Regions from separate parts of the Homo sapiens genome. Here region 2 is linked to region 1. The links come from fine-mapping of genetic effects on gene expression. Tissue or cell type: gastroesophageal junction. Region 1 holds a variant in brackets; the other region holds the start of a gene. All regions are shown on one strand. Distances are from middle to middle.

Region 1 (8,260 bases):
ACAGAATGATTGAAAACTTTCTAGATACTTTGGCAAGAGAAAGTCTTTCTCTATAACAGTCATAGAGGAATCAGGTCATCAATCGCACAGTCATTTGGGGGTGGCCTCACCAGCTTAGCAGCACTGACACCCATTTCGCTCTTAGTACATGCATGAAATAATTTAATTCACTTCAAGCAACTGATGTATCCTAATATGCCCTTGAGTTCCTGCCACCAAATGCCAAAAGTAAGTATTCAGGTTAGCAATGAATATTCTGAATAAGAAAATAATTCCATTTGCAATTGCATTGAAAAGAATAAGATAGGAATAAATTTAACAAAAGAAGTGCAACATATACTCTGAAAACATTATTGAAAGAAATTAAAGAAGACAAATAAATGGAAAGACATCCCATGTTCATGAATTGAAGGACAATATTACAATGGCAATATCCAAAGTTGACCTACAGATTCAACACAATCCCTACCAAAATGCCAGCTGCTTTTGTTGTTGTTGCTGTTGTTGCAGAAATTGGTGACCTGATCCTAAAATTCATATAAGAATGGAAGGGATCCACAACAGTGAAAAAGTTGGAGGACTCACGCTTCTGATTTTAAAACTTACTACAAATCTACAATAATCAAGATAGTATATACCGGCCTAATAATAGGTAAATCAATAGAATAAAACTGAGGGTCAAGAAATAAACTCTCGGGCCAGGCGCAGTGGCTCACGCCTGTAATCCCAGCACTTTGGGAGGCCGAAGTGGGTGGATCACCTGAGATCAGGAGTTCGAGACCAGCCTTATCAACATGGAGAAACCCCGTCTCTACTAAAGATACAAAATTAGCTGGGCATGGTGGCGTGTGCCTGTAATCCCAGCTATTTGGGAGGCTGAGACAGGAGAATCGCTTGAACCTGTGAGGCGGAGATTTCAGTGAGCCGAGATCACGCCACTGCACTCCAGCCTGGGCATACAGAGCAAGACTCCGTCTCAAAAAAAAAAAAAAAAAAAAAAAAAAGAAATAAACTCTCCTGTTTATGTTCAATTGGTTTTTAACAAGAATGCCAAAACAATGGAGAAAGAATGAGGCTGGAACAACTTGATAGCCACATGAAAACCCCTTCTTGACACATGTACAAAATTAACTTCAGCCGGGCTCGGTGGCTCACACCTGTAATCCCGGCATTTGGGAGACTGAGATGGGCAGGTCACCTGAGGTCAGGATTTTGAGACCAGCCTTATCAACATGGCAAAGCCCCATCTCTATTAAATATACAAGAATTAGTCAGGCATGGTGGCAGGTGCCTGTAATCCCAGCTACATTGGAGGCTGAGGCACGAAAATTGGTTGAGCCTGGGAGGCAGAGGTTGTGGTCAGCTGAGATCGTGCCACTGTACACTGTACTCCAGCCTGGGGAACAGAGTGAGACTCCATCTCCAAAAAAAAAACCAAACAAACAAAACAAAACAAAACAAAAATTAACTTCAAATGGATCACAGATTTATGCATAAGAGATAAAATTGTAAAACTCTTAAAACATACAAGGCCAGGCACAGTGGCTTACGCCTGTAATCTCAGCCCTTTGGGAGGCTTAAGTGGGAGGATTGCTTGAGGCCCAGAGTTCAAGACCAGCCTGGGAGTGATGGCTTTGATCAACATAGCAAGATCTCGGCTGTACAAAAAACAAGAAAACAGGAGTAAATCTTTGTGACTTTAAGTTAGACAAAGCCTTCTTACATATGATGCCAAAAGCAAAAGTGACAAAAGAAAAAATGCATACTTTGGACTTCATCAAAATTAAAAACCTTTGTGCTTCAAATGTCACCATCAAGAAAGTGAAAAGAATTTTGATAGTGAAGGAGGCTGTGTGGTGGGGAGGGAGCATATGGAAACTCTCTCGATTTTCTGCTCAATTTTTATGTGAACCTATAACTGCTCTAAAAAAAAAGTCTATTTTTTCTGAAAGAAAAAGCCTATTCTTTTTTTTAAAAAAAGTGAAAAGACAACCCACAAAATGGAAGAAAATATTTGCAAATCATATAAGTGTAAGGGACTTGTCTCTTGAATCTATAAAGAACTCTTACAACACAAAAAAGAAAGACAACTCAATTAAAAAAGATCTGAAAAAACATTTCTCCAAAGAAGATATATGAACGTCCAAGAAGCACAGGAAAAGGTGCTCAACATCATTAATCACTGGGGAAGTACAAATCAAAACCATAATGAGATATCATTTCATATCCACTGGGAGGGCTGTAATCAAAAGGGCAGACAATAATAAGCCCTGGTGAGGAGAAACTGGAACCCTTCTACACTGCTGGTGAAAATGTAAAATGGAAAACTTTGGAAAACAGTTTGGCAGTTCCTCAAAAAGTTAAACATAGAGTTACCATATGACTCGAGAGAACTGAAAACACATTTCCACATAAAAACTTGTACACAAATATACATAGAAGTTTTATTCATAATAGCCCAAAATTCACATATCCATCAACTGATGAATGGATTAAAAATGTGGCATATCCAGGCCGGGCACAGTGGCTCACTCCTGTAATCCCAGCACTTTGGGAGACCGAGGCGGATGGATCATGAGGTCAGATCGAGATCATACTGGCTAACACAGTGAAACCCGTCTCTACTAAAAATACAAAAAATTAGCAAGGTGTGGTGGCACGTGCCTGTAGTCCCAGCTATTGGGGAGGCTGAGGCAGGAGAATTGCTTGAACCCAGGAGGCAGAGGTTGCAGTGAGCCGAGATCGTGCCACTGCACTCCAGCCTGGGTGACAGAGCGAAACTCAGTCTCGAAAAAAAAAAAAAAAAAGAAAAGAAAAAAGAAAAAAAAATGTGGCATATAAATACAACGGAATATTATTCAGCAATAAAAAGAAATGAATTACCAATACATGCTACAACACAGATGAACTTTGAAAACACTGTGCTTGCCTCAGCAGCAAATATACCAAAATTGGAATGATACAGAGATTAGCATGGCTCCTGTGCAAGGATTACAGGCAAATTCGTGAAATGTTCCATGTTCAAAATAAAAGAAAAAGAAAACATTATGCTAAGTGAAAGAAGCCCACATGGTGTATTTCGTTTATATGAAATGTCCAACTCTAAGTAAACCCTTACAGCAGCAAGTACAGTAGTGATTGCTCGACTGGGAATGGGTACAAGGTTGCTTTTGGGGTGATGAAAATGTCCTAAATTGATTGTAATGGTGAGCATACAACCCTGTGAGCATACAACAACAACATTGAGGTGTACACTGTAAATGGTTGAATTATATGGTATATGAATTCTATTTCAATAAGTTTGTTTTTGTTTTTATTTTTGTTTTGAGACAGAGTCTCGCTCTGTTACCCAGGCTGGAGTGCAGTGGTGCGATCTCAGTTCACTGCAACCACCGCCTTCCAGGTTCAAGGGATTCTCCTGCCTCAGCCTCCAGAGTAGATGGGATTACAGGCGCGTGCCACCATGCCCAGCTAATTTTTGTATTTTTTTTTTTAAGTAGAGATGGAGTTTTGCCATGTTGGTCAGGCTGGTCTCAAACTCCTGACCTCAGGTGATCCACTTTCCTTGGCCTCCCAAAGTGCTAGGATTACAGGCATGAGCCACCGCACCCAGCCAGAAGTCTGTTTTTTAAAAAATGAAACTTTGCGAATGAAAGGGTCAGAACGAGGACTGGAGAATCTATTTTTCAGTGAAGCTGGAAAAACAGAAGCAACATATAAAAATATTCACATACTAGAAAAGAAGCAGTCTATGTGTGTAAGCACAATCTGATAAGAAACACAGCCCTGCCTCCCAAAAACTCAGAGACCAAAGGCTTGGGACTAATCTCACAGACAATTCACAATCCTTGCTCCCCTCAAACAGAGGAGGCAGGAGATCTGGATTCTTCGGTGATCTGCCCACTACAGGAACTGAGTTCTGCCTGCACCACCAGCCAAGCAGAACCCAGGGCTTTCCCACTGCTTTCTGACTGGCATCGCTTCTGCCAGCTCTTCCTTTCCTTATTTGTCAGTAAACGATGGTGACAATATAATTTCAGTTTTTACTGCTTCAAAGCCGGCCATTTAATGAGTAACATTTGTAAAAGCCTTCTAAATTTTCATTGTTTCTGTTTTTGAAAAAATATTAGTATTATTTAAAAGTTTCTTAACAGAGGCAAGAAAAACACTGCAGATTCAGACTCTTGGAGGTCCTTATGTCAAAGGCATTCAAACCAGAGTGACTCCACCTTGAATAGGGGCTGGGTAAAATGAGGATTCAACTTGCTACCTTTTTTTTTTTTTTTTTGAGATGAAGTTTCATTGTTGTTGCCTAGGCTGGAGTACAATGGCACAATCTCAGCTCACTGCAACCTCTGCTTCCCGGGTTCAAGTGATTCTCCTCCCTCAGCCTCCCAAGTAGCTGGGATTACAGGTGCCTGGCTAATTTTTGGTATTTTTAGTAGAGACGGGGGTTTCACCACGTTGGCCAGGCTGGTCTTGAACTTCTGACCTCAGGTGATACACCTGCCTTGGCCTCCTGGGATTGGCCTCCTGAGATTACAGGCATGAGCCACCGTGCCTGGCCGCTACCTTTTGTTAAATTTCGATTTTGGATTCTCTGTCCTTTATTTTGGGTAGATGGGAAAGTGGCCATA[A/T]GACCTCTGGCTTGGGAGCCTGACTGCAGCCTCCCATTGTCTGGGTGCCCCAGATGGGAGCACACCTGGAAGGCCACTTCCTTAGTAGCCCACCCTGTCACCCCTTCTCTCTGACATTTTCTCTTTAGTTTCTAACAATTGGCCATTTTACTTTTCTGCTCTTACTGTCAAATTGCATGCTTATCCTTTTTTCTTTGTCACGTTTGTAGTTTTTCCTTTGGATAGTTGAGCAATTGGTTAAAGCAAGACACTTGGTTGTGAGTGGTCCCCCACTGTGTTGATCCTGGGATGCCAGAGTCATGTTGTACTGTGGCCCCCAACTGTGTTAGGTCTCATGCCTTTGGGGTTCACTGTTGGACACTCCCAAGATGCTCTGGGGTTTTCAGCACTTGGTACTGTTTGTCATCCATGCCAGATGCTCTGGGGTGTTCGGAATTGGCATTCCCTCTAGAATTGTGGGTTAGAGTCCCACCCTAGGGGAATCCCGGTCTTGCTTTTTCTTGTTTTCTACCCTAAAGTTATCATTTTCTGTAACAGCATTTTCTTGTCTTGTCACTTGACTTAATGTTTCGATGCAGGAGGTGAGAATTTGCAGTGGGAGACAACCGGATAGAAAGACAGATAGAAAAAGTTCTATGTCTAGTAAAGATCCTTGTTAGACATGGGGACAATAGTCCTGAAGGACTTGCTACTAAGGTGCCTTTTAAGCAACTGGAGCAAATTCAAATTAGCAAACAAAGTTTAGCCATGTGGACAAGTCCCGATTTTGTCAGAGAAATAATTTGGGGCTGGGTACAGTGGCTCTTGCCTGTAATCCTAGCACTTAGGGAGGTTGAGGCGGGCGGATCACAAGGTCAGGAGTTTGAGACCAGCCTGACCAACATGCTGAAACCTCATCTCTACTAAAAATACAAAAATTAGCCGGGCGTGGTGGCAAGCGTCTATAATCCTAGCTAATCAGGAGGCTGAGGCAGGAGGATTGCTTGAACCCAGGAGGCGGAGGTTGCAGTGAGCAGAGATTGTACCATTACACTCCAGCCTGGATGACAGAGTGAGACTCCATCTCAAAAACAAAAAAAAAAAAGAAAAGAAATAATTTGGATCTAGCTATCTTTTATGAAACGGTGAGTTTGTATTACTATCTCATGACTAGAGTTTCAAGATAAAAGCTATTGGATCTTTATGTGTGTGCATACATGTCTAGCTGTGTTTACGTGTATTTACATTTATTATGTTATATATTGTTTACAGGGTAACAAATTGACTTATAAGTAAAAGAGCACTCATAAATTAAGTAAATAAGTCCAAGCATTTTTCAAGTTCATTTAATTTAAACTCATTAAAATTTAGGATTACTAAAAATTCATATATAATTCTGTATGTAAAATGTGCCAAAGAAGATATGCTGCTATTGAAAAAAATTTTTTTTTTTTGCCAATTCAGATGTTATTTAAAGTGGGGTTTAAAATGTGGATTTAGGAAGAAAATAGAAACAAGATAGAAAGAAAAAAAACAGTAAGTAGGGGAAAGAGATGAGTAGAAAGTTATGGATATGAAGATGTATTTTTGATAAGGAAGGCTATAAAGAAAAGAAATTTTATGTGAGAAAGGATCTTGTATGGTAAATTCTTGTCCTAAAGTAGAATGACTGATTATTTAGGAAAGAAGAAAGTATAGGACAAGTCAAAAGGTCCAAGCATGTCATAGGTGGTCTATGTAAGTCATGATAAAGTTCATAAAAGATAACTTATTAAACTTTTTTATATAATTAAATAAACTACAATGAAAGAAAATTAATTTATAACAGTCTATCTAAATTTTGGTCCCCTATGTTAAAACACGTTTTTTAAAGTATTGGTTTGCTTTCAGTAAGACTGAAAGAAATACTGGCTTTTAATTCTAAAATCTGTTTTCTTTTCCCTTGAAAAGGTATGTTCTTCACAAGCTCAAAAATGGCTGCTCTAGACTCCTGGGAAAAACAATATGGTGCTTACCTTCTGCTGTAGCTCAGTAGCTAAGGCTTTGCTCTTTTGTGATGGTGGCCTGGGTTAAATTCCTGGCTTAGGGAATGAATTCCTTTTGATTTGACAGTTGTGGGACTTTTGCCATTTATTTATTCTTTTTCCCTCTATGGGCAGCTTCTGATTTCCTGACTTGAATTTTCTTTTCTCTGAGCTACCTTAGGTGTGATTCTAGATCTTATAAAAACTGCTTGCCATCTCTTTGGAGACACCTTGTGCATCCATGGTTAAATCATAACCTTCGTTAAGGCTTTTTTTGTTTTACCTGGAAAAATACCTTTGAGGGGGGAAAAAAGGGCTTAAAAGCCAGAGGTGTCAGCTGCTTGTCCTGGCTAAAGTTTAATGATAAAAGATTTAAAAACTTTCTTTTTTTTTTTGAGATGGAGTCTTGCTCTGTCACCCAGGCTGGAGTGTAGTGGCACCATCTCAGCTCACTGCAACCTCTACCTCCCGGGTTCAAGTGATTCTGGTGCCTCAGCCTCCCGAGTAGCTGGGACTATAGGTGTGTGCCACCAGACCCAACTAATTTTTGTATTTTTAGTAGACAAAGGGTTTTACCATGTTGGCCAGGCTGGTCCCGAACTTCTGACCTCAGGTGATCTGCCCGCCTCAGCCTCCCAAAGTGCTGGGATTACAGGTGTGAGCCACCGCACCTGACCCAAAAGGACTTTTTTTAAAAGTGCTCTATGGTTAAAAATCAGCTTAATTAAAAACAGATACCCAACGTATTAGTCCATTTTACACAGCCGAGACTGGGTAATTTATAAAGAAAAGAGGTTTAATTGACTCATGGCTCTGCAGGCTGGGGAGGCCCCAGGAAACTTACAATCATGGTGGAAGGGGAAGAGGCATGTCTTACATGACAGCAGGCAAAGAGAGAGCAAGCAAGAGCAGGGAAAACTGTCTTATAAAACCATCAGATCTTAAGAGAACTCACTCACTTAACTCACTCACTATCCTAACAACAGCATGGGGGAAAACATCCCTATGATCCAGTCACCTCCTACCTGGTCCTTTCCTTAATACATGGCGATTATGGGGATTACAATTCAAGATGAGATTTGGGTGGGGGCACAGAGCCAAACCATATCACCCAAATTTTATATATATATATAAATTAAAGGGCTTTATGCCTTTTCTTGGATCTTATTTTTTTGGTTTGTTTTTCTTCTCAGTCAACTGAATTATTTCTCCTGTCCGTTTTCTTGCTACCCTTGATGCTCACATGAGAGGACCTATGGTAATTTCTGACAGCCTGGGACTCCTTGGGAGAAAAATAGAAGATGTCACAGATCCTGTTTTGGAAGAAAAAGCTGTTTTCCTCATGGAACTCCAAGAATTGTAAGTAGACAGGTCCCTCTCAAAATCTAAGGCTCTGCTCTGTTTTGCATCACATTACTTTATCTTTTTTTTTACTTTTGGGGGTATCAGAAATTATTTTGCATTATGAGAGAACTTTTAGCCTTGGTGTATAACAGCTAGGTAGGACATATACTTTTAGGAATAGCTGATGGCAGTTGCTTACAGTGAGTGGTTATTACTACAGGCCAATACTTCTTTCTTCTCATATTTAAATGAAAAAAGTGTGCTCTTGGGTACCTA
Region 2 (8,000 bases), 330 kb before region 1:
CCTGGGCAACATGGCAAAACCCTGTCTCTACAATAAAAAAAAAAAAAAATTAGCTGGGTGTAGTGGCATGTGCCTGTAGTCCCAGCTACTAGGGAGGCTGAGGTGGGAAGATCACTTGAGCGCAGAAGGTTGAGGCTGCAGTGAGCTGTGACTGCGCCACTGTACTCCTGCCTGGGCAAACAAGTGAGACCCTGTCTCATAAAACAAAAACAAAAATTTTAAACTCAAATCCAGACCATATTTCATACATAGCAAACACAACATTTAACAACTATCATTGTATTGTACATCTTAAAATCATATGGGTAAATTATTTGACTTGAGATAGGTTAGTGCTAGTGAGCGCTCAGGTGAGGCTAGATGGGGGTTTGGAAGAATCCCCCTTAAAATTGTCTCTCTCATAGGACGGCACACAAAAGGTGCAGAACAATATCTTTCACATGTGGCGATACTACAACTTTGCCCGGATGAGGAAAATGGCTGACTTTTTCCTTATCCAATCAAACTATAACTACGTGAACTGGTGGTCGACAGCCCAGAGCCTTGTTATTATTCTTTCTGGGATCCTGCAACTGTATTTCTTGAAGCGTCTCTTCAATGTTCCAACAACTACAGATACAAAGAAGCCAAGATGCTAAGCTAAGGTGACTATAGCACCCTGGCTGTTTTCTTCTGGGGCTTAGTCGAATCAGCTTTGTAATGTTATGGGACAAAAATCAATTATCTCATTAATGTTTTAGTCTGCTGCACACATCTAAAAAAGCAAAATGGCAATAAAATCATAACAGTGAAAAAGTTCTGAAGAAGTATGTATTAAATGTATGCATCAAAATACTGTTCATCATATAGCAGTCCCTTAGCCTTCACTGAGTCTACTTAGAGGCTAACAGAAAACCTTAGAAGGAAGATGAGTTGAAAAAGGCCACAATCAAGTTTGCTTACATATAAAAGCAGGAGTTGGTAATGTTTTATTCTTAAAGACTTCACCTTTGGAACTTAAAATAAGCAATATATTCATTAAAGAAATAGTTTAATTTTGCAATACAGATAGTCTTTAAATTTTTTGTCTATAAAATATTTAAAGAAATATTCTAAGGATCTTAAAGTAACTTTGGGAGGCACGGGGAAGGACAAAGGGACTGAATTTTTATGTCGTGGCCTCTGATCAGTGCTTTTAGTCCAATCCAGTCAAGTAAGTAAAGGTTCATAGAAAAAATTGTTTTATAAAATCATAGTGATGAAAAAAACTTTCCAGCCTAGCGTCATCCCATCCAAGAAAAATACTGAGAAAACAGCTTGTAAAAAAGAAGGTAATAAAATCAAATTATACTCATAAAACTCTACACTTAATAACAGGAATACATAATATATATAATATAAAAATAATTACCATTTATTCCATACCTATCATTTCCAAGGCACTGTACACTGTACTAGATGCTTTACAATCAGATGGAGTCTCACTCTGTCACGCCCAGGCTGGAGTGCAATGGCACCATCTTGGCTCACTGCAAGCTCTGCTTCCCCAGTTCAAGCCATTCTCCTGCCTCAGCCTCCCAAGTAACTAGGACCACAGCCATGTGTCACCACACCTAATTTTTTTTTTTTTTTTAGTAGAGATGGGGTTTCACCATGTTGGCCAGGCTGGTCTCAAACTCCTAACCTCAAGTGATCCGTCCGCCTTGGCCTCCCAAAGTGCTGGGATTACAGGCGCGAGCCACTGTGCCCAGCCTACAATCATGATTTCTAATTCCAAAAATCAGACTTTCTAATTCTCAGGTAGATGGCCAAAGCTGATTTTCAAGTTTTGTGTCTTTTTAAACAGAAGAAAATGAACCTTATTAAAGCTGAATGACTCATTCAAGGCCATATAGCTGGTAGGTGGCAGAAGTGGGGTTTGAACCCGTTTTTCTTCTATACCACACACCAATTACTGTATAGAAAAATAGCTGAATTGCTCCTATTAGCCAAATTTCATTTTTAAAACCCCACATGTGGTTTATTATTCTGTTATGGCAATGTCTATGTTGCATATTAATAAAAAAGAAAATCCTTGTGTTTAGAAAACAGTGTTATCACAGATAACAATAAGCTATTCTTGTTCCTGGTTCCAATGATTTTGAACCTATTTCTCAGAACAAGAAGCCCTCTGATTCAAATATGAAACAGTATTCTATTTCGTCACAAAGATCTGAAACCCCATTTTTGAGCCATCTCTGTATATAATAAGAATCCAGCCTGCATTTGTCAGTGATAGAGAGTACAGTAAATAAGAAGTCCCTGAAGAGGCCAGAGTGTTGACAAAATTCAACATGATGGTGGAGTCCACACAAACACAGGAAACAAAGCTCGGCCTTTCCATACAGCCGTCTGTCCTTGGAATGGCTTCGTTTTAAGTCAACGTCTCTTCATGCCGCACATATTCCCCAATGTCTGCTTGATGAAATACCACAATCGCCATGGGGTCTACTTTTCTGCAGTCTTGTGTAGATTTGGCTGCCACCCCAAAACCCTGGGATTCAAAAGAAGAGACACTAACTCACTGAAGTCATTCAATATGCCCATATTGAGGGCTGGAAATAACAAAGACGGAAAAAATACAGTTCTGGTCTTTCTGGGATTCAAAACGTGCTGAGAATTTATTCTCTCAAGCACTCAGATTGAAGACATACCCTTCTTGAATAAGAGTACTTGAGTTCTGTAACAGCTACCATCTCTACTCACCAAAGGGATGTCTGCCATGGAGTACACCACCACGCCCTGGTACTGAGAAGTATTTTCAGTGATTCGACCCAGACCAGATTTCAACACATGGTTCCCATACAGGAAGGACTGCTCTGCACCAGGCTTTATCCAAACTTTATACTATAAGAGAATTAAAATCCAAGAGACATAAAAACGTTACTATTTCTATCCATGCAGACAAGCTAGCTGCTGGATCTGTGAATAATTTTCTGAAATAATTTTAAGGGAAACAGAGAGACTCATGTTTTCCTCAAACTGTCTATCTCCTGAACAGAAATGCAGGAAGTTGCCCGGTGCAGTGGCTCACGCTTGTAATCCCAGCACTTTGGGAGGCCAAGGCAGGTGGATCACTTGAGGCCAGGAGTTCGAGACCAGCCTGGCCAACACAGTGAAACACTGTCTCTACTAAAAACACACAAAAAAATCAGCCAGGTGTGGTGGCACATGCCTGTAATCCCAGCTACTGAGGCACAAGAATCACTGGAAACTGGAAAGTGGAGGCTGCAGTGAGATCGCACCACTGCACTCTAGCCTGGGCGACAGAGTGAAACTGTGTCAGGAAGAAAGAGAAAGAGAAATGAAAAGAAAAAACAGAGCAAGAAAGAAAAAGAAAAAAATAGAAAAAGTTATTTTCTCAACTCTACAAGGATCATCCTCCATGGCCAGGTTAACAGCTCTTTTTCTGGACCCCGGTGTCTTCATTGCTGCCACTTATTTGCTTTCTGATCTCTAGCTGGGTCTCCCTAGGCTCTTCTACTTCGCTGGAGAAAACTAACCCTACGCAGCCACATAGCATTCCTATCCCATAGCCCTGACCATGCTCAAGCTGCAAGACCTCTACACATCTCCATGTGCTGAAACTCCTCCAAGCACACTGTCAGGGACTCTGTGGGAGAGAAGCTGCCGGACAATCTGCCTAATCCTTGACTTCATCGCCCGTGGCAGAATTGGAAACCGCCCCACAAACCTTGGCATAAGGTGCAAGGTAATCCAGAGCTGTGACGTGCAACCGAAACTTGTGGGTTTTAGTGAATTTTCCAAAGCAGGTCCCCAGCGACACCAGCTTGTCCCCGGAAATATTGGCGGCCAGCTTCATAATCTTCTCACTAAAAGGGTAAAGGGGGAGCAAGGTTGCGGATGAAGGAGGCTCGTGGGACCCAGGACCCCTCTCCCCTGGGTCCATGCTGCCTGCCCGGCCCCGCCTCACCTCACATAGTACACCCGGTCGTTGTGCAGACGGAAACAGTAGGTGCCATCGGGCCGGTCCACCAGCAGTTGAAGATTCTCCCCAATGCTGAGGGCAAAAAGAGGACTGGAGACCGCGCCCGAACGAACCGGTCTCCGGCACCGCGCCCCCACTCCACCCTTGGCCACCACACCCACACACTCCCGCGTCCGCCCCGCGCGCTCCTACTATTTCGCTATCTTCTCAAACATGACACGGGTCTCCTCTTCAGTCAAAGGCCGCATTTTTCCCCCTGGGTTGGAACACCGGATCCTCGTGCCTTGGTAACTGGAAACGGAAGTCGGTCGCTCGCTGCTCCCCGGCAATCCCAAAGCCTTCCTCTCTAGCCCCGTACCAATAGTTCGTCTCGCTAGCGCCCAATAGTCTGGACGACCGCAGGGGAAAGCAAGCCGGCCGGATGAGAAAGCATAGAGACCGGAAATGTGCCTGTTTCTTCCTGTCCTAAGTTCGGAGTCAGCGCCCCTTGTGGTCCGGAAGGGAAGTGACGTTGTTGCTGGGAAGATGGCGACCGCGGCGACTATCCCATCGGTAGCCACGGCCACAGCAGCGGCTCTCGGCGAGGTGGAGGATGAAGGGCTCCTGGCGTCGCTGTTCCGGGACCGCTTCCCCGAGGCCCAGTGGCGCGAGCGGCCCGATGTGGGCCGCTACCTCCGGGAGTTGAGCGGCTCGGGGCTGGAGCGGCTGCGGCGCGAGCCCGAGCGCCTGGCGGAGGAGCGGGCGCAGCTGCTGCAGCAGACGCGCGACTTGGCCTTCGCTAACTACAAGACCTTCATCCGCGGCGCCGAGTGCACCGAGCGCATCCACCGCCTGTTTGGCGACGTGGAGGCGTCGCTCGGCCGCCTGCTCGACCGTTTGCCCAGCTTCCAGCAGAGCTGCAGGTGCGACGCGCCTGGCGCTAAAGGGGTTTTATAACTGTAAAAGCTGACATTTACGATGGTAGAAATAACTAACACATAAAGCGTTTACCACGTTCCAGGTTCTCTGCTGAGCGCTTTATTAATCCATTTAAACCTCACAACAGCCTTCGAGATAGGTACTGTTATTCCTTTTTTATCTTTTTTGAGACGGAGTCTCGCCCTGTCGCCAGGCTGGAGTGCAGTGGCGAGATCTCGGCTCGCTGCAACCTACCTCTGCCTCCTGGGTTCAAGCGATTCTCCTGCCTCAGCCTCCTGAGTAGCAGGGACCATAGGCGCGCGCCACCACGCCCAGCTAATTTTTTTGGATTTTTAGTAGAGACGGGGTTTCAGCATGTTGGCTGGGATGGTCTCGATCTTTTGATGTCGTGATCTGTCCGCCTCGGCCTCCCAAAGCGCTGGGATTACAGGCATAATCCACTGCGCCCAGCCCTGTTATTTCCATTTTACATATGAGCAAGTCAAGACAGAGATTAGTGACGTCCAAGGACACAGCTAGGAGGTTTCGAATTCAGAACTGGTTACCCAGAAGCACGTCCCTCCCTCGAAGGGCAGTTGTGGGCACAAAGAAAAAGGATTCATGCAAAGCTCTTATTATCGGGTCTGACACAGTTAACATTATAGGTGTGAGCTGAATATATGTGCACATTTATATACTTATTTTATACGAAAGCGTGGACCGGAGGTCATCTGCTTCAAAACTTCCATTGACGGGAAGGTGACAAGGAAATCCTCGCATTTGAGGGCATCAGATATCAAAAAGTCTCTCCATTTGGATGGCTGGATGTGGTGGCTCAGCCTGTAATCCCAGCACTTTGGGAGCCTGAGGCTTGAACCCAGGAGTTCGAGAGCAGCCTGGCCAACATGGCAAAACCCTGTCTCTATAAAATAAAAAATTAGCTGGTCGTGGTGGCGTGCGCCTGTAGTCCCAGGTACACAGGAGGTTGAGGTGGGGGGGTCAGTTGGGCCCGGGAGATTGAGGCTGCAGTGAGCCATGATTGTGCCACCGCACTCCAGTTTGGGAGGTCGAGGCTGCGGTGGGCTGTGATTGTGCCACTGCATTCCAGACTGGGTGACAAAGTGAAACTCTCTTAAAAAAAGAAAAAAAGGCTGGGTGCGGTGGCTCACACCTGTAATCCCAGCACTTTGAGAGGCCAAGGCAGGCGGATCACGAGGTCAAGAGATCGAGGCCATCCTGGCTAACATGCTGAAACCCCCATGTCTACTAAAAATACAATTAGCTGGGCGTGGTGGCACGCGCTTGTAGTCCCAGCTACTCGGGAGGCTGAGGCAGGAGAATTACTTGAACCTGAGAAGCGGAGGTTGCAGTGAGCCAAGATGATGCGTGCCACTGCACTCCAGCCTGGTGACAGAGCAAGACTCCGTCTCAAAAAAAAAAAAAAAAGTCCTTTGTGAGTCATATTCTGTCTCCATTATCCCTAGTTCTGCCTTCCAGCCTTTCATGATTAAAGTTTAATTTTTCTTTTGAGCCTTTGGATATTTGACAGCAGCTTTTGTACCCTTCCATGCTCCAGAATAGATAGGGGACTTGATAAAGCAGGTCTCTGCAAATATGGAGAAGTGTTGAAAGTAGACTGTGGCAGGAACTATGGTTGAACATTAGCATAGGAGAAGATGAAGACCTGAGGGGAAAGATTGTGGATTCTAGGCAGTTAGTGCTTCATTTTGAAAATAATGATAGCTACTGTTAAATATTTAACTGTGTCTCTTTTACTATTTTTACTTTGACGCATTCGCTCTGTTTCAAGTTCTATGTTAAATGCTTCACACACATCATCTCATTTAGTTCTTACACCCTTATGAGGAGGGTCCTATATACTTTTTTTTTTTTTTTTTTTGAGACGGAGTCTTGCTTTGTTGGCCAGGCTGCAGTGCAGTGGCGCCATCTCTGCTCACCGCAACCTCCACCTCCTGGGTTCAAGTGATTCTCCTGCCTCAGCCTCCTGAGTAGCTGGGACTACAGGCGCGCACCACCATGCCTGGCTAATTTTTTGTATTTTTAGTAGAGATGGGGTTTCACTTGAACTCCTGGCCTCAAGTGATCCGCCCACCTCAGCCTCCCAAAGTGCTGGGATTACAGGCGTGAGCCACTGCGCCTGGCCCTATATACCGTTTTACTAATGAGGAAATAGGTTCAGAGAGGCCAAGTACCTTGCCACAGCCAGCAAGTGGCATATCTGGATCTCCATCTGTTAGATTTATTAATTGTATGTTTTTGGACAAGTTGCTTAACCTCTCTGGGATTAAAAATTTCCTCAATTGTAATAATACTTACCTTATAGGTGGGGTGTGAGGAATAAATCAGATAGATCATCCAGCCCAATGTTCATAGCAGGTACTTGGTAACTGTAGCTAAGGTTTGGGTACAGAGCAGTGAAGGATCAACATTCTTCTGATTATTACTAGGAACTTTGTGAAGGAAGCCGAGGAGATCAGCTCCAACCGCCGGATGAATAGCCTGACCCTAAACCGGCACACAGAAATTTTGGAAATACTGGAGATTCCTCAGCTCATGGACACCTGTGTCCGGAACAGTTATTATGAAGAGGCCCTGGAGCTTGCAGCCTACGTACGCCGACTGGAGAGGAAATACTCTTCCATCCCTGTCATCCAGGTAGCCACCTTGCCCAGAGAGGACTCAAAGTAATGTTCTTGTAATCATTTATTCTGTGGTCAGGACTGAAGCTTTAGGTAGAAACTCTTGCATGTTTCACATCAGTTTCTGCCAGCCAGGTATGCCTGAACAGAAAACATTCATTTATTCAAAATACATATTAATCATGTGCCAAGCACTGCTCTATATGCTGGGGATACAGTGTGAATAAAGTGGTCCTGGCTCTCATGCAGCTTACGTGCTAATGGGAAGTCTGATAATTGACAAAGAAATGATATCATTTCAGATAGTGGTGTCTGAAGAAAAAAACAGGGAATGGGGTAAGGGAGTCTAGGGTAGGTTTCTTTAGGTAGGGTGATCAAGAAGGACTCTTCTAGGGAGGTAACATTTAAGCTGAGACCTAAATGAGAAGGAGGTGCCAGCCCACAAAGATCTGGGGAGAGAGCAAACCAGAAAGTGT

The links. PIP is the estimated chance that this variant, and not a neighbour inherited with it, causes the effect.
Region 2: it holds the start of COG8, and the variant in region 1 is fine-mapped to the expression of COG8 in gastroesophageal junction (GTEx, PIP 0.99).

The regions. Positions count from the first base shown.
Region 1 is chr16:69,001,817-69,010,076 of GRCh38, reverse strand. The region is part of intron 15 of TANGO6 (transport and golgi organization 6 homolog); the gene reads right to left. It also overlaps the pseudogene RNU6-898P. Among named protein-coding and RNA genes, the nearest start is that of HAS3, 100 kb to the left of the region's middle. The variant A/T (reference allele first, on the strand shown) is at 4,638.
Region 2 is chr16:69,336,045-69,344,044 of GRCh38, reverse strand. COG8 (component of oligomeric golgi complex 8) reads left to right here and starts at 4,481. Exons shown (of 6, transcript NM_032382.5): 1 at 4,481-4,869; 2 at 7,333-7,540. The coding sequence starts at 4,493. It overlaps NIP7 (nucleolar pre-rRNA processing protein NIP7), which reads right to left and starts at 4,273. Exons shown (of 5, transcript NM_016101.5): 1 at 4,160-4,273; 2 at 3,953-4,039; 3 at 3,713-3,851; 4 at 2,725-2,865; 5 at 939-2,512. The coding sequence starts at 4,215. The coding sequence ends at 2,393. It overlaps TMED6 (transmembrane p24 trafficking protein 6), which reads left to right. Exons shown (of 4, transcript NM_144676.4): 4 at 405-795. The coding sequence ends at 638. RefSeq lists enhancers at 3,895-3,974, 4,155-4,274 and silencers at 4,695-4,744, 4,755-4,804.